Linked DNA regions of Homo sapiens: all the other regions are linked to region 7. The links come from fine-mapping of genetic effects on gene expression. A gene starts in region 7. Each other region holds a variant in brackets. All regions are shown on one strand. Distances are between the middles of the regions. Region 1 overlaps TSPAN9 (tetraspanin 9). Region 2 overlaps TSPAN9 (tetraspanin 9). Region 3 overlaps TSPAN9 (tetraspanin 9). Region 4 overlaps TSPAN9 (tetraspanin 9). Region 5 overlaps TSPAN9 (tetraspanin 9). Region 6 overlaps TSPAN9 (tetraspanin 9). Region 7 holds the start of TSPAN9 (tetraspanin 9).

Region 1 (4,369 bases), 210 kb before region 7:
ACTCCTTACCAGGAAGCCAGGCCAGGGGACAAGGGCAGGGCAGCTTTGCTCAAATGTGGGCCTCCCCCACATTCCATCAGCACCACTGCCCCTGTCTCAGGGAAGCGGTCTTCACCCTGCACAACTCACAAGACCACCCTACTCTCCACTCCCACCCCCACAAAACACGAATCCTGATAATGCCAACGGTTCTGTCCTCCTGTTCCCGATTTGTGTGTTACTTAAGGTGAACAGAGGAGTGACTGGTGCTGGGTGGCCGTGTCTCAGCTCTTGGATCAGACAGGCAGGTGGAGGCTGGAGAAGAGACCTGGCCCCAGTGGGAAACCAGGGTGACAAGACAAACTGTATAGGAAAGGCAGCCGCCCACCAAGGCCCCACCTGATCAAGTGCAGCAGACGCTGGCTAGCGGGTGAGGTCCCCGTGCTCAGTCCCACGGATTCGCGACCTTTTTGAACGGCAAAACAGTAAGCCAGACCAGCTGCAGTTTGGAGGGGGCGCCCTGCTGCAGCTGAATCCCACTCCTGGCCTCACTCCCCAGCCCGTTTCTCTCCCATGCCCAGCTCTGCACGTGCGTGACTCCGGCTGCTTTCTTCCCGTGGCTCCGGTAACAAGAGCCAGTCTGACCTCTCTTGGGTTTTCTGTATTTCTTCTCCTTGGGATCACAGATGATATAATCGCCACCCAACCCACTGCTGATGTCCGTGGCCCCAGGGAAGGAGGCGAAGATCTTGGGACCCAGGTGGACGTGATTCCCTCCTTCCCAGCAGGGCAACCCACAGCTGAGCAAGGCTGGCGGGGAGGACCGTGGGTCCTCACCCCTGTGGGTCCCCTGCCACTGTCCCAGCACAGCAAAACCTAAGGACTGCTTCCCCTTCCAGAAGCAAGGGGGAAAGTGAGCAGCATCCGAACTAGAGAGGTATTTGTCTGACAGTTTCTAGCAGGAATGTCTGTGAAATAACTGGGGTGTGCAGAACCTGTTGTGGGAATACCCACATGGGGTGGAAGGGGAAGCCTCGCGTGCCAGCAGAGAGCGGGAGGAAGGGAGAAAGAAAAAACCAACAACTGCTCATCAGTGAAAAGTCTAAGGACCCCTCTAGCTCTGCCACAGCACCGTGGGGCCCCCCTGCCCTGGCATTTCCAGCTCGATTGGTTAGCAAACGCCACCTCCCGTGCAGGGGCACCTCCAGCCTGCTTCACGCTCCACCCGCCTCTCCCAGGCTCCTGTCCTCAGACACCAGGCCTGGCAAGGTCCCGTGTCCTGTCCACGCCCCCTCCTTCCCACACGTTCTGAGGGCGCAGGCGCGCCCCATCCGAGAGCCTCCTGGGTGTCGCACGGTGGTCTGTCCTGATTGAGACTGGACAGATGTCCTCTCTTCCCACCCATCCCTCACCCTCAGGGAAAAAAAGTCAAACCATTAAAGAAATCAACACAGTAAAAAGTTACAAATCAGAAATCTAACCCTAAACTTATCTGAGAGATAATATTCCTGAATAATCATAGAGTAAAATAAAATAAAAAAGTTACATTGTAAGGTATAAAAAGCCTGGGCGAGATGCTCCAGGGGCCTTGCCCAGAGGCCGGCAGACCCCCGCCCCGCCAGGTGCCCCATGGTGGCCATGGATGTCGCAGCCCCCGCTGGGGCGGTATCTCCACGGGGCGGGCACTCTGCTCCCCACCCCATGTGGGGACAAAGTGTCAGTGTGAGGAAGGGCAGGGGCAGAAGCCCATCAGTGCCGGGGGTTCCTCCGGAGCGCACCCCAGCCCACCCTGTCGTCTTTGGCAAATACGCATATGCAGATGCAGGAATCCAGGGGCCCCGAGCCCCAGGTCTCCGTGTGCCTCCTCCTCCCTGGCACTCCACCCACTGAGAAGTCCGAGGCTGAGGCAGGGTAGGTGGGGTAGGGCAGGCTGTGGGGGGTGGGTGCAGGGGTCATATCTGGAGAGCGCAGGCAGG[T/C]GACACAAAGCTCAATCCTCTTCCCTCCACAGGGCAGCAGGGCGGGGTGGGCACTCCCGGCCAGCCCGCTCATGCGTCGTACTTCTTACCAGTCCGGTGGATGTGCTGGAAGAGGGTCATGGAGAAGGCCATGCCCAGGATCTGAAAGACACGGGGAGGGGCCTGAGGCAGGAGCTGCAGCAGCCTGGACCTGACCTCAGCCCCGAGAGGCTTGGGATGTCACAGGGCACCTAGAGCAAGCGGGGATGGCCACTGGTGTGCCAGGAAAATGCTTATGGAATGAAGACATGAAGAAAACCGTGAACAGAGGTCACCCTGGAGACACACACAGGTGAACTCTGGCTCAGCCTCGTGGGGCTGTTAGACCAGAAGCCATCGAACCTCTGCAGGATGCATACGTGTGCCTACTCAGAGGGGCGCTGCAGGCACGGAATGCACGGAGGACCTGGCTCTACGTGGGGGCTCACAGGAGCCAAGGTGGGGAGTGGGAGGTGGCAGGGATCATTCAGGACTCAGGCCAGCCGGGCACGGTGGCACTTTAGGAGGCCAAGGTGGGAGGATGGCTTGAGATCGGCCTGGGCAATAGAGGGAGACTCCATCTGTTTTTGGAAAAAAGTTGTAAATCATTCAGGTATGGTGGTGTATATGCCTGTAGTCCCAGCTACTTGAGAGGCTGAAGTGGGACGATGGCTTGAGCCCAGGAGTTTGTGGCTGCAGCGAGCTATGACGGCGCCACCGCACTCCAGCCTGAGCAACAAAGTGAGACCCTGTCTCTTAAAAAAAGAAAAATAAAGGACTCCTGTCAAGCCTCTCTTGTCTGCTTGTGGAACACATGGTGCGATGTCTTGGCAGCAGCAGGGCTGTCTTTCCAGTGATGTGTGCTCAGGACCACGTCACTACTCGTTTGTGCCCCTTCCCTCCTGAATCCTCAAAGGAGCCGGGGACCCAGAGGAGTGCAGGAGGCAGAAGGAAGCCCGGTGTGGTCTCACGGTCACCACAGAGAGTGTGCCATGTGCACAGGCTGTAAAGATGGTGACCGGGGGACACCGTGTGTGTCTTGCATGGCTCTCTGAGCTCAAGGTTTGGGCAGAACTGGGGGAACCCACGGGGGTTGACTCCAGCTTCAATATCCCAGCCTGGGCCTGGCCACAGGCAGCCCTGAGCACCACTCTCAGTGCTGAGTAGACACGTGCTCTCATATCAGAGCTCTGCGGAAACGGTGGCAGGCACAGCTGCTAAGCTTGAATAGCTGTGATGAATTCCAGACCCTCCGCCGTGTACCAACACTGCTTTCACTTCTCTGTGCTTCCTTCCCTCTGAGGCTGAGGCCAGCAGGGTGGGTGAGGCTGCTGGGGACGCCCCTCTTACCTGCATGATGAGGATGCACATCCCCACCGTGCCCAGCACGTGCTTATTGTCATCGAACCACATCTTCACCTTTTCATAGCAGCCCTGGGGAGCGAGGCCCACGAGGTTAGGGTCCCAGCCCAAGCATGCGCTCCCTGCAGCCCAGCCCCCAGCTCACTCTCTCCTTCCACCTCGTCCTCGCTCTTACCTCCCAGCCCTCCCTGGCCTCAGCCCTGTCCCCATCCCTTGGCGCAGCCTCCGCCCCACCCGCAAGGCCAGCTGCAGAGCCTCAGACCCCATTCAACCCCTCGCCCTCTGACTCTCCCAACTGTGGGTCCAGCCCCACCCCCCATTTTCCACCTGTCTTTTGGCTTTATTTTTGTGAGCCCCCCACCGCCACATTCAGCCAACCTCTTAGTGTCCCGGGCCCAGCCTCCCCTATAGGGCTCCCCGTGCCGGGGCATCCACACACGGGCTCTTGGACCCAAGCGGTCCATCCCCAGCCTCACCGTTCTCCACAAAGGCGTGGTGGCGTTGCGCCCGCAGCCCTGGGAGTTCTCCATGCAGCAGCGGTCGGGAACCGTGTTCTCCCCCAGCACTGGGTACCAGTCTGTGTAGTCAGTGACACCACAGCATCGCATCTGGCCAGCAGGAATGGAAGGGGCAGTCAGACATGCCATGGCCCGCCCCTTCCTCCCCAGGGCCTTCCCCTGCCCAGGCCAACCCCAGTCCCCGCAAAAGTGGCCACCCTGCAGTTAAGGGAGGAGACAAAGGGCTTGCTTCTTGTCCCTTCTTTGGGCTTCAGCCGGGCCCACTGGAGAAGTGAGTGAGCACTCCTTCCTGGAGACCAGAGCGGGAGAGGGCAATGCAGCCCACCCCTCGGGCTGGGCCCCTTGGCTCAGCCCTGTGCTTGCCCACCAGCACCTCTGCTCTTTCTGTAAACCGTCCCAAGCTGACTGCCACCCAACCCCCTGCCGGCCCCTCCCCAGGGCTTAAAATGGGAGCATCTGGGACTATGGACTTGTTCTCCTCCTAGAGCCAGGGCCTCCTCACCTAAGCCAAGCCCC
Region 2 (4,369 bases), 140 kb before region 7:
TCAGGGGACATTGCCATCAGGGACCCCAGGATGCTACACCTCAGCCCCTGGCATCCAAGGTCCGGGCATGAGGCCCAGGGGCAGGTGGAAGGCTCAGCTCCTCAGTTATCTCCTAAATACAGTGACGTGAAGAGAGCTCAGCAGGGAAAGAGCCACGAATAGCAGCCTGGGAACACCAAAGAAAGGGAACGATGAGGAAAAATAACTCCAGTAAATTAAACAGCCGGGCAACAGGCTGCCCTCTGAGCAGTCTCTCAGCCAGTCTGCCACTTCTCATCTCCTCTCCAGCCCTTCCTCCAACTGCAGTTCAGGGGCCTACTCAGGAGGCTCAGCTTCCCCCAGGACAGTGGGCCCTTGGGGTGGTGGCCTGGCCTGGACCTTCACCAGGACCCAGGGAGCCCTCAGAGCCCTCCAAAGCAGGGGCCTTGGGGATCTGTGTCTGAAGGCTAGAGATGAGGGCCTTGGCCAAGGAGGTTCCACCTCCCTAGGGTGCCTGCAGAGAAAAAAGCCCACGTGGACGTTTTTGGGAAGCAGAGAAAGGCAGCAGGTGACCCCTTAGGGGATCCACATGGCTGAATCTGGAAGCCAGAACCACCTCCGGACCACACCTGTGACAAACGGGCTTCCAGGCCCATTAGGGCCACTCCGGGTTCCAGTGGGTTCCACCTCAGCCCTGCAGGCCCTGTGCCCAGTGGGACCTGGACACCAGGCACCCCATCTCCCTCTCTGTATAAGCCTCCCCACTGACGAGATGTGTTTGAGAAGAGCTTTGGGTGCTTTGAGACGGTACGAAAATCCTGGTAAAAGGGAGGCTTGATGCTGGAGAAGCTCCCCATATCCTCCCAAGCCCCGCCTCCAGAACCCCAACCACTCTGACCAGCGAGTGCCCAGTGTGAGCTTGGACATCTCGGGGGAGCAAAAGAGATGTGGACCCAGGGCCATGTGGGCACGAATGAGCACCTCCAAAACCTACTCCCACATCTGGAAGGTCCCAGCAAAAGCCATCTGGCTGCTTAGTCAGTAGTCGCAGGATGATCCAGCTGAGAGCCCCACAGGCAGATAGCCCAAGCAAGCAAATCTGTCCAACTCCTGCCAATCACAGCACAGACTCCCCAGCTCCCAGAGGGCCCCAGGGCTGGGGTGGGGGTGGGGTGGGGATGGGGTGGCTCTGAGCATGGACTGAGGTTACTTCCCAGCCCAGGACTCCAGGAGGGAGCAGAGGCCAGAGCGACTGAGAAGGAAGCAGGGCGACCAGGGATAATGGATCAACCGCTGGGAACATGGAGCCGTGTCCCTGTGATTCCAGGATGCACAGGTTTTCATGCTCATCCCCGTAAGTCCCCAGACAGAAGAAATGAGCCTGAGCAAGCCAGACAGAGAGGTCCCGGTGGAACGTGCTCTGGACCAACCTACGTTCTCCACTCTGATACAGGCTCCAGACGGAGAGGTCCCGGTGGAACGTGCTCTGGACCAACCTACGTTCTCCACTCCGATACAGGCTGTGCCGGGCCCACCACGGAGCCTGGAGAGAGCAGCAAATGGCAGCTGGAGGGAAATGAGGGGCCCCTCCCACCCCCACACTTCCCAGACAGCCCACAAGTGGGGTTCCCCAGGTGTCAGACGCTGGGGTGCCTCAGCAGGCAACTGCAGGAGCCAGCAACATGACTTGGGGCTGCCTGGTGGAGAAATTCCCCAGGGAACAAATCATTGCACAGCTTTAGGGCCCTCTAGGAAGGCTGAGAGATGGGATGGAAATAGATACAGAGAACAACAGGAAGTCATGAAAAGAAAAATAAGCTGGCGATCCTGATTCCAATCAGCAGAACCCTTCCTAGGCCTCAGAGTACTTTCAGGATCACCATCCCATTGCAGCCCACTGACAAGGCTCCCAGGTTGGCCAGGCAAGTTTGATTAAGATTTGATTCCCACCTTACCGAGGAGAAGCTGAAGTCAAAGATCCTCCCAGGGAGTCAATGGCAGAGCAGCAGGGTAGCCCAAGCCTTCCCCCAGCCAGCTATGGCCTGCGGCGCTGGTGCACGGACACCCCCTAAATGTGTGCAGTACTTTCCAGTTTAAGGCACCACCCTTCTCTTGGTTTGGATTCTCACAACCACCAGAGAAGCGGGTAGGACAGGTTCTTGAATCCACACACAAGGTAAAGCATCCCTGGCTTTGAGCCATGAGTTTTAA[T/C]GGGGAGACTTGGGGATGGGGGTGGGAAGGGTATGTGTTTGTTTCCTAAAGAGGTAGCAGGTGGGAGCGCAGGCCAGGGCCAGGGGATAAGGGAGGTGGGCTGTCAGGGGCTGCCCTGGGTAGAAGGGCACAGTGAACAGGGTAGAGCCGGGTGAGAGGCAGGCAGCGCCAGGGAACAGCCCTGAAGACGTGTTCAGGGGGATGGGGGGAAGGAGGAAGAAACAAGAACGCTCTTCCTAATGACGATCGCTGGAGGGAGGAATTGGAACAATAGTAATTAAGGCTTCTAACAATAGGAAGGAGCCGCGACAGTTCTGTGTGTCAAACAAGGTGCAGAGCTTCTCCCCAGCGTAGCCAGGGTGCTTAATACGGCAGCCCGCCCCCTCATTACCTGCTTAGAGGGCGTGAAGGCCCTCCCCTGCAGGGGGGAGGGCGTGTTCAAATCAACTGACTGCTGTGGCTGTGGCCCCATCTCCTGCCCAGGCCCAGAAACGACTTCCATTTCTTGCTACCCTGAAGTGGGAAATGGGCTAACAGGGAAGATTCTCCCCCCACCACTAAGCAAGGAACTGGAGGTCCGAAGAGGCAAATCCAACAGGAGTTCGTCCACCCTGGAACCCAGCGCTCCTGTCCCGACCCAGCCCCGCGGCAGGCAGCCGCTCACTCCAGGCCTGTGAGCTCCAGGAATGGCAAAATCTAGGGCAGCTTTGTCCAGGCAGTGAGTTCCAGCACACTGAGCACACACGTAGTCCAGGTGAGGCAGTCCCCTTTCAGTGTCACCACCTATGAGACAGAAGAAACTCATCCGTGGTCCATCACTCTACCGACGCTACTATGAGGATAAGGAAGATAAAATATCTCAATAATCATCAGCTCCTTAAAAAAGACAAAGGGAACAAAAGAAACATATACAACCACAGAATGTCAGGGCCCAGAGAGACCTCAGAGATGAGCTGGTCCAAGTCTATCATTTTCCAGATGTGGAAACTGAGGCCCAGAGACAGAAGCAGTTTGCCCAGGATCACACGGCTAGTTAGCAAGCATGCCGGGGACTAGAACCCAGGTCTCTGGGATCAACTCCCTGCTCTTTTCCACTCTGCCACTTTGATCCCAGATACAAGCGAGAGTTAACTGGCATGCATCTTCCAAGAAGAGCTGCACACCTGCATTTGTAGGAGTGGGGAGGAAATGCAGGATGCATGGCCAGGCACCCCAGGATCCCGCAGGCTGTTTGGGTGGCCACCCAGCCCAGCCCCTCCCTGCCCCAAGTTGTGAGAAGTCTCCATTTAGGTGGGAAGACAGAAAGCTAATCGGCAATGCAGAGAATCTTGTCAATATTCCTCCCACAGCTCCTGAGTAAGACCCACAGCCCTCTACGGAGTGGCTTTTGTGAAATATGCACTTTTCAGACTCCCCTCCTCCCAGCAGGCAGGCTGAGAAAGGGACAGGTGAAGGGGGGCTGGAAGGGGGAGGGGGGCTTCGCTGCAGCTCTCTTTAGCTGCCATAAATGGGAACAAAGTGAGCACCTCGTGCACTCAGTACCACATCAGCATTCCTCCCTCCACCCTTGCTCTCTCCTGAGGGTCCCTGAACCTCCTCCCCAACCAGGCCTCTGAGCCCCAGGGACTGGTCACGATGAGTGTCCTAAATGGCTCAGACATAAAGAGCTCCTGCCCAGAGCCCAGGCTTATCGGCCTGACAAGCTGTCGCTCTGATTTGGGTCCAATGAGCTCTTGCCAACAAGCGGGGGAAGCCCCCCTTGAGAGGGCAGGGGGCAGAGTGAGGCTTCAGAACACACCCGCCCTCACTGTACAGAGAACAGAAGGCACAGGATCCTCACCGCCAGCAACTGCCGTTTGCTTAGAGACCCCTGCAGACAGACTCCCCAGGTTGCCCGCCCAGCCACAGTCCCATGTCCTCCAGACCTTCCTCCACCTGGCGTTCTTTAATGCCCTTCCCCGCATGATCCAAAGTGCCATTGCTAAAAGGGGTCTTCTGCAACCAGCACACCGCTGTACCCAAGCAATTCCTAGCGCTCCACAGATCTGTTTGACACCCTTTGCATTAGCCCCTTTCTCTGGCTTCCAATATCACCATGTTTTTCCTGCCTTCTCCTTCTCCACCCTCCCCACTCCCTCTGCTTGTCCACAATCCCTTCACCGGATAGGCATCCTCCCAC
Region 3 (4,369 bases), 27 kb before region 7:
CTGTGACTACAGGCACATGCCACCCCGTGTGGCCAATTTTTTTATTTTTTGCAGAGACAGGGTTCTCATTATGTTGCTGAGGGTGAACTCAAATTTCTGGGCTCAAGTGATCCTTCTGTCTCAGCCTCCCCAAGCGCTGGGATTACAGGCGTGAGCCACCAGGCCCAGTCCCATCTTTCTTTTTAAGGACCTCCTCCACTTCCCACCACCAGTTTCTGCCTTTGTTAACTTTACATTTTACAGGCATAATGCCTCCCAGTCTGCAGATCTCAGAACACTCAACCACCTGTGTCTCCTGTGTCCTCAGTCTCTCCAAGCTCTCTCTATTATACAAGAGGGGTAAACTGAGGCACAGGATGTGGTAAGCTAAAAGCCATTATTGTGGGACTCCACCACTGTCAGAAACTCCCATGCCAAGTCAGCTGCCAGCTGTTGGTGCCCGTCTCTGACATGTGTCCCCCAAACACCTCCCTGTGGGCATAGGTGGGTATATGCACAGGCGAACTAACCAATCACGCACGTGTGTGTGAGAGCCACAGCATGGGCAGGCATGTGTGTGTGTGCGTGCGCGCACAAGAGCGAGTGTGCATGCTATGTGTAGGTGCACATGGGGTGAGGATGGAGTGGGTGAGGGGTAAGGGGGTATATGAGTGTGTGTGTGCAAGACTGAGTGTGCGCTGCACATACGAATGAGCACGTGAGGGTAAGGGAGGCGGTGATGAGTGTGGATGGGACCAAGCACACCTGAGAACATGAGTGCCCGTGACCATGTGTGCATGTGTGTGTGAGCGTGTGTGTGTGAACGTGTGTGAGCGTGTGTATGAAAGTGTGTGTGCGCGTGTGCGTGTGTGCGCATGTGTGCGTGAGTGTGTATGAGCGTGTGTGCGTGCGCGTGTGTGCGTGTGTGTGAGTGTGTGTGTGCACGCGCGTGCACACAAAGCAGGCCCTAGGCCCCCAGGGGCATGTACACTCCTTGAGACAGCTACTAGGTAGGGCAGGGACCCTCACCCCACCGGGATTCAGACACCAAAGCACATGGTTAACAGAAAAGGAAGCACCCCCAAATCCAGAAGCCCCTGTTTCCCGCTCAGCTCGCCTCTTCCCTCCCTGCCCCTCTCAAGGCAAGCTGCACAGAGGCCTAGGCTCCTGGGTTCCCTCCCTTGCTCCACCCCAGCCTTACTCTCTGACCCCAATTTTTCCAGCCTGTAGCTTTTTTTTTTTTTTTTAAGACAAGGAAAAATATCTTCCTTACTTCCTCAGGGAGCAATAAATATAAGGATTATGGAAGTGACGTTCTGAAAGTGATCTGAACTACTTAGAAGGAAAGGGATAGGTAAAATACGGGGCATGTTGGCCCAGACTTCACTCGGAAACAGAAGGAGCTTCCCTCCCCTGGGAGAGGACGGCACATCTGCCGCACTCCTCCATCTGCCTGCCTCGGGGCACTGAGCCCAAGTCGGCGGCAGAAAGCTCAGGCCTCTACACAGCAGGGCTTGTCTGAACACAAAGACACAGGGTCCTGTAGGCCCAGAGAGGCTGCTGTGCGCAGACGGGGCACAAATTCCACTCCCCAGGCAGCCTCCCCTCATCTGGAAACAATTTGCTTTTCCTCCTACCACACAAGTGAGTTAAAGCAGAGGGCCTGCCCTCACCCCTCTCCCAGGGTGACCAGCTGAACGCCTGAGAGCAGCCAAACAACAGGAACAGGGTCCCCCTGCCCATCACCCCCACACGCCTGTCCACTGTTGTCCTAAATGACCGGCCCTTTTGCTCTGGAAATATGGACAAGAGTCCAGGGCACAACCTTTGGAACCTGCCTGACCTAAGCTGACAGCTGGCTCCACCACCTTTTAGCTCTGTATCCTCGGACAAAATGTTTACTTTCTCTGAACTTCTTGCTAAGTAAATTGGAGTAAAGTTGCTGGGCGGATTAAATGAGGTGCCACAAAGAGTCTGCACCGAGCCAGGCACACGATAAGCACTTGGTAGCTAACAGTGATTAGAGGCCAGGCGCAGTGGCTCACGCCTGTAATCCCAGCACTTTGGGAGGCTGAGGCAGGAGGAATGCTTGAGCCCAGGAGTTCGAAACCAACCTGGGCAACATAGCAAGACCCCCATTTCTACAAAAAATGCAAAAATTAACCAGGCGTGGTGGTACATGCTTACAGTCCCAGCTACTCAGGAGGCTGAGGTGGGAGGATCTCTTGAACCCAGGAGGTTGAGGCTTCAGTGAGCCATGATCATGCCACCGGACTCCAGCCTGGGTGACAGAGTGAGACCCTACCTCAAAACAACAACAACAATTAAAAAAAAAAAACAGTTATTAGTACTGCTACTGTCACTTACCGATTTTCTACCGAGCAGCCACAGCAATCCTTTTGAAATGTATGCCAGCTCTCCCACTCCTTTGCTCAAAGCCCTCCATGGCTCCCATCTCTTCTGCCATAAGAGCTAAAGCCCCTAAGATGGCCTAGATAATCCAAATCCCATGACCTTCCCCTTGCTCACTCCCCTCCAGCTGTACCAGCCTTGAACAGGCCTCATGTGCTCCCACCTCCTACTCCCGCTGCCCCAGGAGGCACCACCCCAAGATGTTCACAGGTTCACTCCCTCCCTGTCTTCCAGTCTCTCCTGAAAT[G/A]CCAGCTCCTCAGTAACGCCTTCACGGCTCCCTGACCCCGCCTCATCCTCCCGTCCCGCCCTGCTTTACTGTCCTCCATAGCATTTGCCACCTCCTGATATACACCAATTTTCATTGTCTGTCTCCTCCACCAACATATGAGCTCTTGAGGGCAGGGATTTTTCCTCACTCCTGCAGCCCCAGAGCCGGGAGCAGTGCTTGGCCAGAGGAGCCCTTCAAATATCTGTGGGATGAGGCTGAGGACACTTAGTGTGAACCAAGCAGAGGCTGGGACCAGAAACACAAGCCCTAAGCCCACTTTCCCACTCTCCAGGTGCTAGTCCTTTGAGGCTGGTGGCTGCCTCATCCCAGCCACTTCCCAAAGTCACAGCCAAGAGACAACAGGAGCAGTGTCTAGGAATACATGTTCGTGCATGGCATGGTGGGGAGCCCTACAGAGACAAAGACCCCAAAATGATTTCTCCCAGCAGCATCCCCCAGGCCAACTTGCAGTCCCAGTTTAGGGACCTTTGAGGTCCCCAGGTGGGCACGTCCAGTCCGATTCACCACTGAGTCCCTGGTTCCTAGAGCCTGCCTGCACACCAGAAGTGTTCAATGAGTGTTCAGCTAAAGCATAAGTGAGCAAATCCCATACAGATAAGCACGTGAGGAATGGAAAGATAACCAACATAAGAATCCTCAGTAAAATATTAGTTGACCTAAAACAGCATGCAGACAACAGCTACCGCGGACGAGGCTGACAAAAATAGTGAATATATTTTCATCATAGTCACATTGAGGGCAAGTGTGTTCTGAGGCAGGAACTGGTGACGGCAGCCAAGGGGAATAGAGAACAGGCTCAGGAAATCTCTTTTCAGTGAGTGCATTTTAAGAAGTAGGACAAAACTCTGCACATCACGACAGAATGTACTTGGTCAACGCTGACTGGGATTATATCATGTTTTTATTACTGTCTTGACATCCCCCAAGGGAGCCAGCTGGAAACTAGGAGGCAGAACATGTAGGTTTCTAGACAGGCTCTCCCACCTAACAGCAAGTGGCCTGGAGCACATGGCTTCACCTCGTGAGTTCATCTTCCTCATTCAAAAGATGGGCAGGTTGGGTGGAACACTGTCCTGGCCACCTGGACACTGGGATGTCCCTCTCTGGGGCTCACTCATTCAGTCCACAAATATGGGTTAAGTGACCTCTGTTCCAGATCCAATTTTGAAATATGCAACATGTTATTATTTACTGTAGTCACCATGCTGTGCAATAGCTCTCAAAAAAACATTCCTCCCTGGGGCCAGGCGCAGTGGCTCACGCCTGTAATCCCAGCACTTTGGAAGGCCGAGGCGGTCGGATCACGAGGTCAGGAGATCGAGACCATCCTGGCTAACATGGTGAAACCCCATCTCTACTAAAAATACAAAAAATTAGCCGGGCGTGGTGGCGGGCGCCTGTAGTCCCAGCTACTCAGGAGGCTGAGGCAGGAGAATGGCATGAACCTGGTGGGAGGCGGAGCTTGTAGTGAGCTGAGATCGCGCCACTGCACTCCAGCCTAGGTGACAGAGCAAGACTCTGTCTAAAAAAAAAAAAAAAAAATTCCTCCTTGGCCAGGGTAAGCAGCTTATACCTGTAACCCCAGCACTTTGGGAGCCAAGGCAAAAGGATCACTTCAGGCCAGGAGTTCGAGACCAGCCTGGGCAAAATAGCAAGACTCCGCCTCTACAAAAAAATTTTAAAAATGTT
Region 4 (4,369 bases), 200 kb before region 7:
CCATTTCCTGTCCAAAGTCCTCCAGGCCCCCAGGAAAGATCTGCGGCCTACCCTACGGGGGCGCAGTCTGGACTGGAAGGCTTCCTCTCCAAGCCCTCAAACCTGTTCCTGCCTCCATCACAGCTCCCGCCTGGCACAACTCCACGCATGGTGCACGTCTGCCCAGTGAGGAGGCCTGTGCAGTACAGCGGGTGCCACGCACATCCCCACTGCCACGCTCCCATCCTCAAGGGGCTCCTGCCGAGATGAGCTCTCTGCTCCCATCTTCTGATGGCCCAACACTAACAGAGCCTCCCGGCAAGAAGAAAACACAAAGGTCACGCCTCGATTTTCCAGGAAGCTAAGCGGGGGGACAAGGAAGTCCCCAGTCACACTGCTGGGCTGGGACAAAACCTTGGTTTCTGGCATTTGGTGCAGAAGCCTTCACTACCTGCTCCCAGGGGACCTCCGACTGACAGGTGACAGGCACCAACACTGGGCCTTCGCCACAGGTCCCATGTCCAGATCACGGCCCCCACTGCCCTCCCTGCCCCTGGCCTCTAGTTTCCAGCCCAGCCTGCATAGAGCTGCCTGATTCTTTTCCTAAAATGCCTCTCATCATGCTGCTCCCTAGTGTGACCTTAAGATTCTTTAGCTCTCGGAGGCCCAATTTCCTTTAAAACTTGGGATTTGGACGAGATCATTTCTTAGGTCCCTCTGGCGCAGTCTTAGCCGAGTCTGAGACATGGTGCTCTCAGCCCTCAGCCCAGTGGTTCCCAATCAGGAGCAATTCTGCTCCCCAGGGAACATGTGGCATGTCTGGGGACGTTTTTGGTTGCCACAATGGGAGGGGCTGCTCCTGGCACCTGGTGAGTAGAGGCCAGGGGTGCTGCCAAACACCCCGCAGTGCACAGGACAGTCCACACAGTCAAGAACTGTCTGGCCCCAATTGTCAATAGAGTTTGAGAAACCCCGCCCCCTACCCTATCCCCCCACGCCAGGCACCCACCCTTGGGCTGCCAACATCTTGAGAACAGCCATTGGAGAAAGAATCTGATGTGTTCCCTCCAGCGGTGGGGAAGGGAGAGCCAATGACAGCGATATGCCCAAAGATGCCAGCTGGTGAGCTGGGGACAGCCGGGGCTGAGATCGGGGAGGGAGCAAGGGCAGGAGGGAGGAGGTGATGGCAGAGACAGGTTGGCCATGAAGTCTTGGTGAGCCAGGCCTGCCCCGCACAGGCAGGAGGGCAGGAAGTCAGGAAGCTGACCTCTGAAGCCAGTGCAGCGGGCAGGGAGAGGGTGCGGCAGGAGCAGGAGAGGGAGGTGCAGGGCAGGGGAGCCGCCTCTGGTGGAGGGAGCCCAGCACATAGCACAGGAAGGAGGCAAGGCCTGTCTGTGGTGGCACAGCCAAAGCTCAGGGCCGGAGAGCTTAGCTGGTGGCATTTGGGAAAATTCCCTTCCAAAACCAGGGGTTTGTCTCAGCTGAGATGACTGAGCTATAATCTAGCCCACGATGGGACAATCTGGGGTGAGGCAGGGTGACTCAGGGGATTGGGCCCCAGGCAATGCTAGCACCAACCCGCAGAAGGTCACCAGCCACTCCTGGTGTGGTCCAGGCCTGATTGATGCCCTCCCCGGAGCAGGTGCAGGTCCAGGGGCCAGCCTGAGTACCAAGCCTCCCCTGCCCCTTCCCCAGCCGAAGGCATTTCAAAATAACTTCAAATCAGGGCTACAAACAAATCCACATCCAAATTTGAGAAGACGAATCCCATCCTTACATTTGCCAATGGCCTCCTTGAGGGCCAGGATTTGGGTCTGTTGTTTTTGTGGTTAAATCCGCAGAGCCTAGAGCAGGGCTGGCAACGCCTTCAAATCCCACAGGGCGATCTGGTCTGGGCCGTGCCCTGACTCCGGAGGAGGGAAAGGGTGCAGGCCCC[C/T]AGCACAGAGAAAAGCCTCAAGTCATCAGGCTGTATCAGGATCTTCTTTGTCACCAGGGGCCCATCCACAATACGCGCAGCAGGTAAACTGAGGCCCAGTCAGGCTATGGCCATACAGTGAGCCCACACTCCAGCCTCACCTCATTTGTTAAGTCTTGTAGTTAGCTAATATCCCCACGGTGTCTTCCTTGTCTTCAGTTTGAACCATGCTGACTGTGGTTTAAATACAGGCTTCTGCCACGTGTCGTTACGTATGTTTCACGCAGGCATCCTATTTCTCTGGGGGTGAGGGACACAATTCCCCCTTCGGGCTTCCCCGTCCTGAGCTTCTCCACCCACTTCCATGCTGCTTAGATCCTAGGGGCAGCCACTGCCCATATCTCATGGGTCCCATCGGTCTCCCACTGGTGGGAGCGGCCCCTCGCCAGGGATGACTCCTCTGCCAGCGCCGGGCCCACAGCAGAGGACACACCTAGGACCTCTCAGGCTTCTGTGTAGACTTGCTGCCTACCCTCACTAAACACACACACACGGCCGGGCGCAGTGGCTCATGCCTGTAATCCCAGCACTTTGGGGAAAAAAAAAAAAAACACACATGCACTTCCAGGACCCAGGTTTGTGTCTTATCCATTTTTCTTCCATTGTAGGGCCCAGAACATGCCTGGATTACTAGATAAATATTTGCTGGAGGAATGAATAAATGAATGAATGATGGGGATGGATGGAGGGGCCTGAGTGGGCCATAGCTGGGGAACAGGACCAGACCCAGACATGCAAATCCTCCTGAAAAAGCAGCCTCCTCTTCACCCCGTCTTCCCCACTCCTGGAACCCCCAGTGCCCTCAGGTTGCTCCCACCTCTGCTGCCCTATTTTAATCCCCACTGCCTCATGTGTCTGCAGAGCCCCACAAGGCACCTGGGCTTCTGGCATCAGATGTCACTGGTGGCCCCTGACCTGGCCCCCCTGACACCCTCATCCACTTTTTGCTTGCAGGAAATTTTCAAATGCTAGGACTGAGTGCTCCCTAATGTTTCTATGAGCCAAGGCCAGGCCCAACATTTAATGGCATTTAATAAATTAGTGGATGTGGAGAATTTTTAAAAAAGAAAAAAACCAAAACAGCTTTAATTTCACAGCCTGACATGCTGGCTAGTAATGAACCTGCCTGGCTCTGGAAGAAGCCGACCTGCCAAGAACTTCATCATGGGGAGCAGAGACAATACATCGGTGCCAGGAGCGCAGCCGCTGCTTTGTATTTCAGACACCCCTTGCCTCCAAGGGCCCCCGCAGCTCATTCATTCTCACAGCCATAAAGGGAGAGGCAGGAGGGGCAGGGAAGGCAAGAGAGCAGACGATGCCTCCAATTCTGCATGGAGAGAAATGAAGGGACAAAGTCACAGACACATCTTTGCTGAAGTCACCCAGCAGGTAGGAGGACCACAGCACCTTGGAACCATGGGGTGGGATGCAGCCACACGGGTCTCCCAGGGGCTGAATGCTCACCATCCCACAATGCACTCCATTCTTCTTTTTTTTTTTTTTTCTGCATACCTCTAATCAGCCAGGAATTCTTTCTTATTAATGCAAGAATCTACTTCCCTGTGGCTAACATGCATCAATCCTAGTTTTGCCCAAGAAGCCCACTAAGAACAAGTAAAACAGGCCTGTCTCAAACTGAAAGTTAGGCTCCAGCTATGGTAGGACCCAGCTCTTCCCCTCCTACGTTCTGAGCTCTATACTTCTAGTAATTCAGCCTAAGGCCCCATTGGCTTGAGTGGCAGCCATAGCACAGTTTAGTCTCACACTGAGCTGGTGCATAACTTCAAGCCAGATGGCATGATTCCTTGGTCATTACTGTTGGACCCCACACTTTCTCTCAAAGCCTCCAATTCACCTTCATACCTTCACTTTGCAGCCCCTAATCTCACCAACTTACAAAGGTGTCAGGGAGATGACACCCATATTTTTGTGCCTAATTTTCCTCCAAATAAACATTACATAAAGCATTTGCATATCTACAACCCAGTTACATTTTGATTATACCAGAATGGGGTTATTCTCCATGTGAGACAGTTCTAAGAGAGAATGTCTACCCACGGCCAAACTTAAGGGGCATCGTGTTTGGGGGCTGCAAGCCTCTGCAGTTATAAAGCTCCTGAATTATGTTTCAAGACTGTCAATTCTCTCCAGCCAACTTTGTAACCCTTCCCCAATTGACCAAAACCCCTAGCAGTTGAGAGTGAGTCCTGTTACAATACCTACACCTCTTGCAATCTAAAATCCCGAAGTGTATATTGGGGTGGAAGAGTCCACGATGAAGGAGATTCTATCCGAGACTTTGGGGACAGCCCCTACCCCCCTCCAGGGGTGTCAGGGCCCTGCGTGGTGGGATAAATGCCCAGTCACCAGCAGTCCTGGCCCCCAGCTCCACAAAGGGCTTGGTGTCCTCTGGCC
Region 5 (4,369 bases), 46 kb before region 7:
TTGTAGTGTTATATCTTACAATATTTGCTTGACATTTTTTCATTAATGTTATTTTGTTTTGTTTTTTCAGAGACAGGGTCTCACTCTGTCACCCAGGCTAAAGCACAATGGCATGATCATAGCTCACTGCAGCCTCCACCTCCCAGGCTTGAGTAATCCTCCCACCTCAGCCTCCTGAGTAGCTGGAACCACAGAGGCACACCCCTATACCTGACTAATTTATTAAAAATTTTTTTGTAGAGACAGGGGTCTCACTATGTTGCCTAGGCTGGTCTCGAACTCCTGGGCTCAAGCGATCCTCCTGCCTCAGCCTCCCAAAATGCTGGGATTACAGATGTGAGCCACCACACCTGGCCTATTTTGAGTCATTATATATAATTCTTGAAGACATAATTTTTAAAAGCCCACACAGTGGTCCATCAGGCTGGGCGCGGTGGCTCACACCTGTAATCCCAGCACTTTGGGAGGTCGAGGCAGGCGGATCACCTGAGGTTGGGAGTTCAAGATAAGCCTGATCAACATAGAGAAACCCTGTCTCTACTAAAAATCCAAAATTAGCCACGCGTGTTGGTTGTGCATGCCTGTAATCCCAGCTACTCAGGAGGCTGAGGCAGGAGAATTGCTTGAACCCACGAGATCAAGCCATTGCACTCCAGCCTGGGCAACAAGAGCAAAACTCCATCCAAAAAAAAAAAAGAATGTATCAAAATTTATATAACTAATTTTCTATTGTTAGACATTCAGTATGCTTCCAATTTTTAGCTACTATAAATAGTGCTGCAATGAAAAAATATAACTACTTTGGTATAAACTCCAAAGAACAGAATTATGAATGAATGTTTCTAAGGCCTTTGATATAAACTTCCAAATAATTGCACTAAAAATAATTCTAAGCAATGTTGCATTTTTGCAACTCTAGACATAAATGGGACTATATCTCAGTATTTTCTACATGGACAGTTTAAGTCATGCTGACAGATAAATCCGTTCTGTGCGCCAGGAATTTCTCACTTCTGTTTTGAAGTGTCTTCTACTAGTTGCTCATATACCAGCTGAAAATGTGCTTCCAAACTACCCTGGCAGCTCCACTGCTAGCACCAACCACATTGTATCTTACATCAGAGGCAGCTGGTGGCCTGCCTGCTTCCCGCACTCCAGGAGTGCAAGGACCAAGCCCGGCTCACCTCTGCCTCCTCCCTGCACAGCTCCTTTTAAACCTCTCATCCTTCATCAACAGTTCTCAAACTATTTTTTAAACTCTTCCGCACATCCTCATCCCTCCCTAACTCATGTGTCACAGGATACGAAGTGGGAAGGATCTGAGACCTTGGGCAAGCTCCCTAGCCTCTTGGACTTCAGACTCATCTGTAAAATGGGAGTAACCATCCCTCTCCCAGAGAGTGCCTGCAAGGATTAAGGTAGGTAATGCATGCAAAGCTCTTAGTAACCATGACAGGAGCCTTAGAAAATACTCAATAAGTAATAATTTTTCCCAAAAAAAAAAAATACATAATAATAAACCCACCAAAAAATTGTTTAATCCTCCACACACTGGAGGAGATTAATGAATCATACAGCTGTCTCTCTCATCTGAAGCTCGCCCAGGCCCTGAATGCCTGGAGAGAGACTCAGAACCTTCGGGGACTGTGCCAAACCCACTGAGCCTCAGGCCAAGGGCAAGGGAGGTCTGGCAATGCCAGGCTTGGGACGGCAGGCGGGCAGCTGGTCAGCACAGAGCCACAGAAGCTCTAGGTCAGCTGTGCACAAAGAAGGGTTAAGGACAAGCTACAGGGAAATCAAAAAGAAACAGCCTGAATCAATCCAACTGGGACAGGGCTCTAGGGCACCAAGAGTAAGCAGGGAAGCGGTTCAAGGAGCAACAGGTTCCTCCCAACTAGCAGCTTGGATGCAGGTGAGGGATGCAGACGCCACTCCCGAGCTAACCCTGGACAAATCTCCTGTTGTTCGTCGACGGGGCTGGAGTTGAGTCACTGTGGCATTGTCCAGCCACTCTATCAGGAGGAAACAGCTGGACAGACCAACACTAAATGCAGGAAGCCTCAAGCTCCACCAGGGCTCCCTGTGGGGCCGCCTCCCTGTTTGGGAGGCCTAGCATCCTGCCTGCCTCTCCCCCAGGGACCCCTGACCAA[C/A]CCTGAAGCATCCACTGTCCAAACAGACATCCCTGTTTCCTGCCTCCAAGTGCCTGGGGCAAAACGCAAGCTCTCTGTTTGGCATTTTGGCAGCCCTCCTAGGGGCAAGGAGGCGGGGTCACCTGCTTTCAACCTGCCAGTAAATAGAAACCAAGGTGTAGGAAAACAAGTGGTAGAGAAAAAACAATGACATTTAATTAATTCAGAAAGGACATACTGTGTAGCAAGAGGACAGTTTTTCTCTGGACTAAAACATGAGCAACATCCAAAAGTGGACGCCACCTCCCTGCAGGAGCACATTCAGACAGATGCGGGGACTCAAACCTCTCTGTTAAGAGGGGTTCTTGCCAACTTCCTTATCTATGGTCTCCTAGGCTCAGACAAAAGATTCAAAATCCCTGCTAGGATTTAGAAATAACTCAGGGCCAGGTGTGGTATCTCACACCTGTAATCCCAGCACTTTAGGAGGCCAAGACAGAAGGAGACCAGTTTGAGACCAGCCTGGACAACATACAAACAAAAAAAATTTTAATTTGCCAAGCATGGTGGTGTGTGCCTGAAGTCCTAGCTACTCAGCCGATCAACGCTGCAGTGAGCTATGATTGTGCTACTGCACACCAGCCTGGGTGACAGAGCAAGACTCTATCTCCTTTTTTTTTTTGAGATAGAGTCTCACTCTGTCGCCCAGGCTGGAGTGCAGGCTCACTGCAAGCTCCACCTCCCGGGTTCACGCCATTCTCCTGCCTCAGCCTCCTGAGTAGCTAGGACTACAGGCACCCACCACCACACCCGGCTAATTTTTGTATTTTTAGTAGAAATGGGGTTTCACTGTGTTAGCTAGGATGGTCTCGATCTCCTGACCTCGTGATCTGCCTGCCTCGGCCTCCCAAAGTGCTGGGATTACAGGCGTGAGCCACGCGCCCGGCCAACTCTATCTCTTTTTAAGACAAAAAACGAGGGGAGGGGAGGGGAGAACTCAGAAAAACAGCAGGATGGTTCACAGTTTAAAGTCAGACAGACTCAAGCTGGAACACTGTCCCTAACAGTAGCTGTGTGACTGATACAGTATAACATCACAGCCTTCAGTCAAGGTTTGCAAACTCAAGTACCTACAAGGTGGAAAACATAAATTCATGAAGTTACTGTGTACAAGGGCAAGTCCCAGTACTGTGTCAAGACTGAGGGGTCAGGAAAGCACAGCCCCATGTGGAGGTGGTGCCTGAGAGCCAGATCCAGCCAATTGTTGCCACCGGGCAGCACAGGCTCAGTGTAACTAGACCTTCCAACTTTAAAAAGCCAACATCAGCCAGGTGCAGTGGCTCATATCTATAACCCTAGCACTTTGGGAGGCCAAGGCAGGAGGATCACTTGAGCTCAGGAGTTTGAGACCAGCCTGGAAAACATAGTGAGGCCTTGTCTCTACAAAAAAAAAAAAAAAAAAAAAAAAAGTTTTAATTAGCCAGATATGGTGGCATGTGCCTGTGGTCCCAGCTACTCAGGAGGCTGAGGTGGGAGGATCACTTGAGTTTGGGAGGTCGAGGCTGTAATGAGCTGTGATCACACCACTGCACTCTGGCCTGGGCAACAGAGCAAGAACCTGTCTCAAAAAAAAAAAAAAAAAAAAAAAAAGCCAACATCCCCTGTTTTGAAAAATCTCTCCAGTATGTCAGCTGCGCCCAAACAAAACGCATCTGTGGCCTGGATCAGACCTAGAGGCCACTGGATTGCAACCTCAGCTCTAAGCCTGAGATCTGCAAAATGAGGGCAAATAAAAGAGCCTCGCTCTGGGAGAATGAGATGGGATTAGGTCTGTCAAGCATTTCACACCGCCTGACACACAGAAAGCACTTGATAAATGGTGACTATTAACTATGCAGAGTTGGAAGGGACTTCAGGAAGACCCACCCCAACCTTCTCATTCCACAAGATGAAACTCAGACAGGTCCTGTGACTGAGCCACAACCTGCAAAGGAGCCAGTGGCCAGTGGCAGGCTGGACCCAGGCCTACTGACTCCCACCTGAGTTCTGAAGGCCCAAGCCGCCTCTCTGACTTACAGAAGCAGTTTATCACCCACCACTCCGTAAGGGTCCCTCCTGGGGGCTGGTCTACCCCATTATGGGTAGCTCCCCCAAGGGAAGTGCTGTGTGTACATCTTTTTCATTCACTGGAAGAGCTCGGCCTCACCTCGGGCAGGTGATGGGGGCTTGGTCAACATTAA
Region 6 (4,369 bases), 68 kb before region 7:
ATTTCCATTTTAAGTTAAAACTGAATAAAATTTAAAATCCAGCTCCTTGGGGCATTTTCAGTCCCATTTTCAATGCTCAACGGCCACATGTAGCCGGTGGCTACTGTACTGGGCGGTACAGAACAGAACACTTCCATCGTTGCAGCACTGGGCTGGCTGGTTCTCTCTCTTCGGGGGCAGAACAGGCCCTAGGTGGCTCAAACTGAATCTGGAAGTGGGCAGGGAAGGTGGGGGCGATCCTGAAGGAGGGAGAGGCCACTTCCCGTCGCGTCGGTGGAGATGCCACCAGGACTCAGGCTGCAGCATGCCCACCACCAACCTTGCTCCTCGGCGAGGGTCTCCCGGGCCCCAACACTCAGCAGGATGCAGCAGGCAGCTGTCACACCACACTGCATTTTTGGGATACATGGGACGCCTGTCATTCTCTCCAGCCCCTGGCGGGCTCCTCATCCCAGGGCAGGGACCGTGGTCCCTGCCTCCTGCTGCCCAGCAGCTCCTCCATACCTCACCTGGGTTCCAGGCTGGAGCGTGACCTGCAGAGGGCCAGGGCTCCCCTGCTTCCAGTCTCCACCCTAAACTCAAAAATATCTCACTACATACCCTGCAGAAAGGAAGTAAGGAGAAAAGGGGAGAGAATGCTAGTTTTAATCAAACACCTTAAAATCAAGGTACCAACAATGAACTTTCACTTACATCTACCCATTTGATGTCCAAAATACTACTGAAAGGTGAGTGTGGTTAAACCCATTTTCCGATGAGGAAACTGAGGCTCAGAGAAGATAAGGGACTTGTGCAAGCTTGTAAGTGTCACAATCTGAATGCAAACCCAAAAAAGCATGGCCCCAAAGCTTACAATCTACCCACACCCCTTTCAGGAGGCCACGGGATCCACCACCATTCTCCTCCCAGAGAATGTCCAGACGCACAAGCAGAAAGGTCAAGATCTATAGCTTTTTGCATTGCTGGCCTAGAGAGCACAGAATCCCAGGAAGATCTCAGCACTGGGTGGGTGGAGAAAGGCCATAGACACAAAGCAGGTGGAGAAAGATAAGGAGGCAGGAAAGAGGAGGAGAGTGGAGGCAGCAGAAAAGTAAGATCAAGGAGGAAGAGCAGAGCGCACAGAGGCATTTAAACTTATTCCAAGTGTAATTAACTATTTGTGAACTGTTTGTCTAATGCCTGTCTTCATCAATCGGATCTTGGATTCCATGAAAGCAAGGACCTTGTCTGTCTCGTGCACAGCTGTGTTCCCTGCACAGGAGGTGCTCCACAGATACTGGTAGGAGAGACGGAGGGTAGACAGACAGGTGGGCAGAATGAAAACCAAACTGTCAGGGGACTATGGAGGAAGAAAAGCCCTCTTTTCAGAGACCACCATCTCCACACAGTCTCCCCACCCTAAGCTCCCCGAGGGCCTTGAGACACCCAGGGGAAGCTGTCCTCCTCCAACGGGCTCCATCCCCTGACCTCGCATCCCAGCGCCCTCCTGCCCCTTTGCCATTGACCACAAACCTAGTCACCACTCCCCTGATGGCCACGGGTCATAAATCTAGGCTGTCAGGGCCAGAGAGACCTCAAAGATCGCCTGGCCCAATCTTCTCATTTTACAGATGACAAGACTGAGGTCCAGGAGGGGAGTGGGCTTGCCGGGGGAGCTCACAGCCTCAAAGTGGGAAAGCGTCCTCGTGCCTGTGCCTGCGGGAGCCTCGTGGTGGAAGGCCACCGCCAGGCCCCGCGTGCCCCGTGGCTCGCTCGCAAGGCCAAGCCAGTGCCTGCAGCCCATCTGTCTCTTCTGCCTGCCAAGAGGCCTTCCCTCCCCTGTGCCCATGCTAATGAAACCCACCACAGGTGATTTCGGAACACTGCACCAGGAGGAGGTTTTGCTGGCCACCACGCCAGGCCTTTCATTTCCGATTTCCCAGCCTGACAC[C/A]CCAAATGGTCTGAGCCCTCTCTGCTCTGAACCCCATGTGTTCATGCATCACCTTGGCGGATGCCAGCCACGCCTTCCCCCAGCCATCTGGACAGAAAAATGAGGAATGAGCAGGACAGGATGATCCTGGCAGAGAGGACTGCTGGGAAGCTCTGGACACCTGGTCCCTGTTCTTCTGCCCTCACTGTGTATGTGCTATTAGAATTCAGGGTGACGAGTGAGTTTCTCTTCACCTGGGACTCAGTTTCCCCATATGCACTTGAGTCTTCTGCCCCAAACTCAGCAAGATGTACTGAGGTGGGTGCTCCTCTGCCCACGGGTATCAAAAAGGAGGAAATCCACAGCAAACCCTAGCTGAACACCTCCTAGGGACGGGAGGACCCTGGCCCTGGAGGAGCTCTTCATCAAGCTGGCACGTCAAAACAAGTTCACACAAAAAGGTCATTTCCCAAACAAGAGCACTGCCAAGGAAGAACAAGAGCACCATGGACTGGCAGTCAGGGAGGACACAACGGGAGAGAGCCTTGAGCTGGCACTGAGAGCTGTGCACGTGCTCAAGAGTCTAGAGGTGAATGCAAGGGCAGTCGCGGTCCTGACCGGAGGGCCTCACGGTCCAAGCAGTTGACAAACGCGTCATCCACCAGAGGACGCCGAGGGCTGCTGCACGCACTGTGTGCTCACAAGGGAGTGGGGGGAAGAAAAAGGAGCCCTAGGAATGACCTTGATGTGTGAAATCAAGGAGGGACATTTCCTAGGAGGTGCCCTTGAGCTCTCTGCACAAGGAAACAAAGCAATGCAACTGATTTGAAGTCCAATTAAATGCTAAGAAACACAATTTGATGATCAGATTATCCTCGTAACATAAAGGTCTGGGGGAATAGGGAAAAGGGACAAATATCATCAGCAGCTATGGTTTAAATGCAAGCTTTTTGGGTTCTAATTTTGCCCAAACACAAGCCTCACTGAAGGGGCACCTGGCCATGGCTGACATGCTAGCACTAGCCTCTGTGTTCACTTCTCAGGGCGCAGCCCAGGGCTACCCAGATGTGAGAGAGGATGATCTCAGGCAGGAGCCTGACAGAAGCTGCCCGCACCTGCAACCCCCACTAGAAACCACTCCATGTGATTCCCGGAGCCACTGCAGCAAAGTACCCCGAGCTGGGAGGCTTCAACAGTAGGGATTTACGGTCTCGCGGTTCTGGGGGCTGGAAGTGCAGAATGGAGGCATTGGCAGAGGCTCCCTCTGCAGCCTCTAGGGGAAGATCCTTCCTGGCCTCTTTCTAGCTTCTGGTCATTGCTGGGAATCCTTGGCAGGAACATTGCTCCAACCTGTGCCTCCGTCTCTGTCATCACATGGTGCTTCCTGTGTCCCTCTTATAGGGATACCACTCACTGGCCAGGCACAGTGGCTCACACCTGTAACCCCAGCACTTTGGGAGGCCAAGGTAGACAGATCACTTGAGGTCAAGAGTTCAAGACCAGCCTGGCCAACATGGTGAAACCCTGTCACTACTAAAAATACAAAAATTAGCCGGGCGTGGTGGCAGGTGCCTGTAATCCCAGCTACTAGGGTGGCTGAGGCAGAAGAATCACCTGAACCTAGCAGGTGGAGGTTGCACTGAGCCAAGATCGCACCACTGCACTCCAGCCTGGGTGACAGCAAGACTGTCTCAAAAGAGTAAAATAAATAAAAAATAAATAAATAAATAAATATATCAGCACACACTCGTGATTTTGTAAATATAAACACAAATAAACAGAACAACAGAGATACAGATATGTGTCCATGCCTGGGTTGACATATATCTATTTCTTAGTTCTATTCTCTGAGAGGACCTAGAAGCAATGACACCCCAGTAGCAATGAACGCACCTAGCACCTAGATCTTGGTTTCTAAACACCATGCTCCAGCAAAAAGAAGCAGAGCTCCTTAGAGAAGTGATTGATTCAGGCCTGGGGCAGGAGAAACATAACACGACCCGGAGCATCTTGTGCCAGAAAGTAAGGAAGAGCTCCAGAAAAGACAGGAATACACCAAAGGGCACAGAAGCCCATCTGAAAGTGCTCCCTAGAGCTTCCCATGGCCAAGGCTGCAGCAAGTTGAACAACAAAATAAATATCTATTGTGCTGTTCCTGTAACTCTAACCTATAGGATAAAATATATATCCTGATATTTATTATATATCCTATATCCATACATTTATACTTTTTATCTGTGAAGTAAATAAATATCCATGAGTCTGTAATGATAAAAATAACTAATTGAATAAATAAGTGGGACAGAAGAAATAGCTCTTCCTTCTTGGAGAATTCCAATTAATAAATGCAGAAGAAATGAGGGAAACAGAAAATTACCATTAGGCAAACACCACAATTATAAGAGCTGCAAGCAAAAACCCCTGATGGATGCTAAAATTAGTGAGCAAAGGTTTGAGAAA
Region 7 (4,369 bases):
CCCAGTTACTTGGGAGGTTGAGGCAGGAGAATCACTTGAACCCAGTAGGCAGAGGTTGCAGTGAGCCGAGATAGTGCCATCGCACTCCAGCCTGGGCAACAAAAGCAAAAGTCTGTCTCAGAAAAAAATAAATAAATAAAATAGAAGAAGGGCAGAGAGGCAGATGGCAGAATAGATGGCACAAGGCAGGAAGGTCAGAAGCCAGGGTTCAAGTTTTGCTTCTTTCACTTAATGAGTGTTGTGACCTTAGATAAGATACTTATTCTCTCTGAGTATCATTTTCTTAACCTATAAGAAGGCAATTAAAAGTAACAAACTTCAGCCAATGCGGTGGCTCACGCCTATAATCCCAGCACTGTGGGAGGCCAAGGCAGGTGGATCACTTGAGGTCAGGAGTTCAAGACCAGCCTGGTCAACATGGCAAAACCTCATCTCTACTAAAAATACAAAAATTAGAAGGCGTGGCGGCACGCGCCTGTAATCCCAGCTACTCGGGAGGCTGAGGCAGGAGAATGGCTTGAACCTGGGACGCGGGGGTTGCAGTGAGCTGAGATCCTGCCACTGCACTCCAGCCTGGGCAACAGAGTGAGACTCTGTCTCAAAAAAAAAAAAAAAAGTAACAAATTTCACAAGATTACGTATGAATTAAATAAAATTATATACAGCTAATGTAACGTGCATAGAAAAAACTTGGCCAACTATAAATTACTTTATCAACACTAGTTATTGTTATTAATATTAAATATCTGTTCATAGGTTTAAAAAGCTCTGCCAGAATATTAAAATCTGATTAAACCAGACCAAAAAAAAAAAAATCCTACTCTCACCTGTTCAGGGACTTGCACACAGGGCGTCTTCAGTGAGTGAGAGTAGAACTGAATTACACTTCAAGTTTTATCTACCCCAATCCTCTCCCTCCAACCCACAGCCCAGCTGCATCAGCCATGCCAGGACCAAGCCGAGGGTAGGAAGCCGGTGTAATTGTCTGCCTCTCTGGCTGCATTCCTTAGCTAAATATAAATGATTTGTCCAGGCTATTGTTTGAAATTATCCATAATCCCTCTCCTCCCCTCCCCATTACTTATGATGGCAAGCTGGCTGCGTATCTCTATAGCAAAGCATATATTCAACATTCTCTGTGGCTATTTTCAGTAAAGAGAAGGGAGCTGGCAGGTATATATAGGGATCCTCGCATGAGTCTTCAGTTTTCTCCACTAGTCCAGGAAAGCTTCCTGGAGGAGGAAATACCTGAGTCACCCCAGGGAAAAGGACAGCTGCAGGTCAGAAGGGCACGCGCACATAATGAGAGACTGGGTCTCTGAACTAAGAGTTACCAGGTAAGGCAGGTAAGCCCCTGCCTTCTTACCCCCCGTTTTGGTGATGCGAGAAAAAGGTAGCTCAGGGGATCCCATACTAGCCCAAGCTTCCCCAGACAAAACAGGCATTTGGGGGAAGATGAAGCAGTGACTCGTATATTTTTCAAAGAGGGAGGAGATCCAAGACTCCAGTTCCAAGATGTACAAGTACAAATATTGCTCTTACAACAACAAGCCGGTTTCTTGTTTGGATCTTTTTTTAAAAACCACAAGAAAGTTTTTTGAAGTCCCAAACTTGAATGCACAGATGGGCTAGATCTCCAACTTCGGGATGTGCCAGAGTCCTGTCACTCGGAGTGCTGATCTTCCAGCAGTGGCCCAGGGAGCGGTCGCGGGTGCCGGGGGGCTGCAGGCCATATCCCAGCCCTGCCCGAAGGCCCCCTGGCCCTCTCTGGGGTCCTTGTATGGACTGTCCCAAGCGGTGCACGGGGTCACACAGTCGGAAACCCTTGCCGGCCCCGGGTTACTCCCTTTCTGAAACGGTCTTCCTCGGAGCCATCCCCTGGAGGACCCCACTTCGCTCGGTGCCCGGGCCCCGCACCCACCCTCCCCTTCCCGGCCCGCTTCCCGCACGGCGCCTACTCTGTTCCTCGTCCTCTCGTCCCACCGCCGCCCTGCCCACACTGCCTCCCGTGGGCGCCCCCGGCCGCTCCCCCTTCTCGGGTCTCGGCCTGGGGGTGCCCAGCCCGCCCGGCGCCGGCTCAAGGCCGCGCGACTCCGCACGCTCTCGAGACCCGCCTCGCCGCCCGCCGCCCGGGCCGCACTCACCGCGCCCGCAGGACCTGGGGGTCTCCGCTCTGCTCGCGCTCCGGCACCGCCGCCGCCGCCGCCGCCAGCGGAAACAGGGGGCGGGGCCTGCCCGGGAATGGCGAGCCTGCGGGGCGGGGCGGCCCGGGGGCGGAGCGGGGAGGGGCGGGGCGGAGCGGGGAGGGGCGGGGCGGAGAAGGATCGCAGGGCTGAGCGGGGCGCCAGCGCCAGTGCCCGGCACTGCCCCGGGCTGGGTCCCCTGCGTTAGAGGAAGGGGAGCCCGGGGACGGGGCACGGGGCCCGCGAGGCACGGGTGCTCTCTCGGGGTTCCGGAAGCCTCCCTCCCCGCCCCGCCGCCCGCATGCCCGGACCGGCCGCTCCTCCGAGGTGCTATGATCCCGCCTTCCCCCTGCGGCGAACGGGCCTCTTCCCGGGGTAGGGGCGGGGAGGTCCGGGCCTGGCAGTGCGCTCTCCTGGGCTCTGCGCCCACACGGCACCCAAGGGCCTTCCTGGCCCAGGCCTCGGCTCTCTCCCTCGCGCCAGGCTGCCTGGCCTCGCCACCCCACCCCCACACCTACGAACCCCTTCCCTGGTGTTTCGGGCGGACTGTGCGAGATGCTGACAGCGCGGGTGTGTGTTGGAGCCTGCCTGAGACACCTCCCGCAGAAAGGGCCATGCCTCCCCAGGAGCTGGCGGCCTCCAAGGGCGACTACAGGGCACCGTGTGCCTGAGGGGTGCGCTAAGGCAGGAGAAACTCCAGCTAGGCATGTCTGGCCCGGGCGCTTTTTCAGGCCTGGATTTTATGTGTTTTTTGCTTTTTGTTTTGTTTTGTTTTTTCTTGAGACAAGGACTCACTCTGTTGCCCAGGCAGGAGTGCAGTGGTGCGATCACGGCTCACTGCAGCCTCGACTTCCCGGGCTCAAGTGATCCCGCCTCAGCCTCCAGAGTAGTTGGGACTGTAGGCGCGCACCACCACGTCCGGCGAAGTTTTTGATTTTTTTTGTACAGACGGTGGTCTCCCTGGGCCCAAGCTGGTCTCAAACTCCCGGGCTCAAGCCATCCTCCTGCCTCTGCCTCCCAAAGTGCTGGGATTATAGGCCCGGATTCTTAAAGCTAGAAGGCCTAAACTTGTTTCCAAAGAGCACTAAAACGCCATCTCTTCTCATCATTACTGTCATCAAAAATGTCTTCTAGGCCAGGTGTGGTGGCTCACGCGTGTAATCCCAGGACTTTGGGGGGCCCAGGTGGAAGGATTGCTTGAGCTCAGGAACTCAGGAATTCAAGAACAGCCTGGGCAACATAGGGAAACCCCATCTCAAAAAAAAAATGTTTTAATTAACCGGGTGTGGTGGCACACCCCTGTAGTCCCAGCTGCTCCGGAGGCTGAGGCTCAGGCGTTGGAGGCTGCAGTAAACTAGGATCATGCCACTGTACTCCAGCCTGGGCAGTAGAGGGAGACCCTGTCTTTAAAAGTGAAATTTTTTTAAATTTTAAAGAAACTGTATGCTGTGCTTCCCACGTGCCCTACCATTGCACTAAGCTTGACTGGGGACAAGTTTTTAAAACCTGGCTATAATCACTAGGGTCACTTTTGCTTTCTGCTAATTAGACTGGAAGTTTCCACTCATCTTCTGGGCCCCTTTCCGTCACACACATGCAACCTTGTTTTTGTCTATTAGACTAAACCCATAACCCATTTCCTTCTGATCTCCCTTTCCCCACAAGGAAAATATTCTCCTTCTACATTTTGCTTCATCCAAAGCCCTGTTCAATGCCCCTATAACAAAGTCTTCCCAAGGAACCCCCACCAGCCCCAATCTCTCCAGTCACTGCGGCAGAGTTGGGTACATGTACCCAGAAAAGGAAACTGGGTCTCAGACAGGGAAAGAGATATACTAGGATTGTCTGCCAGCAAGCCAACTCACTGGCAGACCATTGGACGCAGCCTGGTGAGGGAGTAGCCGCAGGGCTTGGGAGCCAGACACACCTGTCTGAATCCTGGCTCTGCTTTTATCGGCTGGGACCTCTTCAGGCCTGTTTTCTCACCTGTGGAATGGGGCATAAGAATACCAATTATGGGGATGGGCATGGTGGCTCACACCTGTAATCCCAGTACTTAGGGAGGCCGAGGCGGGTGGATTACCTGAGATCAGGAGTTTGAGACCAGCCTGGCCAACATGGTGAAACCCCGTCTCCACTAAAAATACAAAAATTAGCCGGGTGTGGTGGCACATGCCTGTAATCCC

What was found. PIP is the estimated chance that this variant, and not a neighbour inherited with it, causes the effect.
Region 1: its variant is fine-mapped to the expression of TSPAN9 in lung (TOPMed, PIP above 0.99). The same link has a PIP of 0.9 or more in fibroblasts and whole blood.
Region 2: its variant is fine-mapped to the expression of TSPAN9 in nasal epithelium (TOPMed, PIP 0.92).
Region 3: its variant is fine-mapped to the expression of TSPAN9 in esophagus mucosa (GTEx, PIP above 0.99).
Region 4: its variant is fine-mapped to the expression of TSPAN9 in whole blood (TOPMed, PIP above 0.99).
Region 5: its variant is fine-mapped to the expression of TSPAN9 in tibial nerve (GTEx, PIP above 0.99).
Region 6: its variant is fine-mapped to the expression of TSPAN9 in cerebellum (GTEx, PIP above 0.99). The same link has a PIP of 0.9 or more in cerebellar hemisphere.

What each region holds. Positions count from the first base shown.
Region 1 is chr12:3,280,772-3,285,140 of GRCh38, reverse strand. It overlaps TSPAN9 (tetraspanin 9), which reads right to left. Exons shown (of 9, transcript NM_006675.5): 7 at 3,812-3,943; 8 at 3,324-3,407; 9 at 1-2,096. The coding sequence ends at 2,025. Among named protein-coding and RNA genes, the nearest start is that of LINC02827, 17 kb to the left of the region's middle. RefSeq lists enhancers at 1-414, 415-915. The variant T/C (reference allele first, on the strand shown) is at 1,956.
Region 2 is chr12:3,212,921-3,217,289 of GRCh38, reverse strand. The region is part of intron 3 of TSPAN9 (tetraspanin 9); the gene reads right to left. Among named protein-coding and RNA genes, the nearest start is that of TSPAN9-IT1, 65 kb to the right of the region's middle. RefSeq lists an enhancer at 2,058-2,597. The variant T/C (reference allele first, on the strand shown) is at 2,191.
Region 3 is chr12:3,102,289-3,106,657 of GRCh38, reverse strand. All of the region lies in intron 2 of TSPAN9 (tetraspanin 9), which reads right to left. Among named protein-coding and RNA genes, the nearest start is that of TSPAN9, 27 kb to the right of the region's middle. The variant G/A (reference allele first, on the strand shown) is at 2,639.
Region 4 is chr12:3,270,634-3,275,002 of GRCh38, reverse strand. The region is part of intron 3 of TSPAN9 (tetraspanin 9); the gene reads right to left. Among named protein-coding and RNA genes, the nearest start is that of LINC02827, 28 kb to the left of the region's middle. The variant C/T (reference allele first, on the strand shown) is at 1,916.
Region 5 is chr12:3,120,763-3,125,131 of GRCh38, reverse strand. All of the region lies in intron 2 of TSPAN9 (tetraspanin 9), which reads right to left. Among named protein-coding and RNA genes, the nearest start is that of TSPAN9-IT1, 27 kb to the left of the region's middle. The variant C/A (reference allele first, on the strand shown) is at 2,151.
Region 6 is chr12:3,143,356-3,147,724 of GRCh38, reverse strand. The region is part of intron 2 of TSPAN9 (tetraspanin 9); the gene reads right to left. Among named protein-coding and RNA genes, the nearest start is that of TSPAN9-IT1, 4.3 kb to the left of the region's middle. The variant C/A (reference allele first, on the strand shown) is at 1,931.
Region 7 is chr12:3,075,229-3,079,597 of GRCh38, reverse strand. It overlaps TSPAN9 (tetraspanin 9), which reads right to left and starts at 2,219. Exons shown (of 9, transcript NM_006675.5): 1 at 2,145-2,219. RefSeq lists silencers at 2,114-2,613, 2,664-2,713.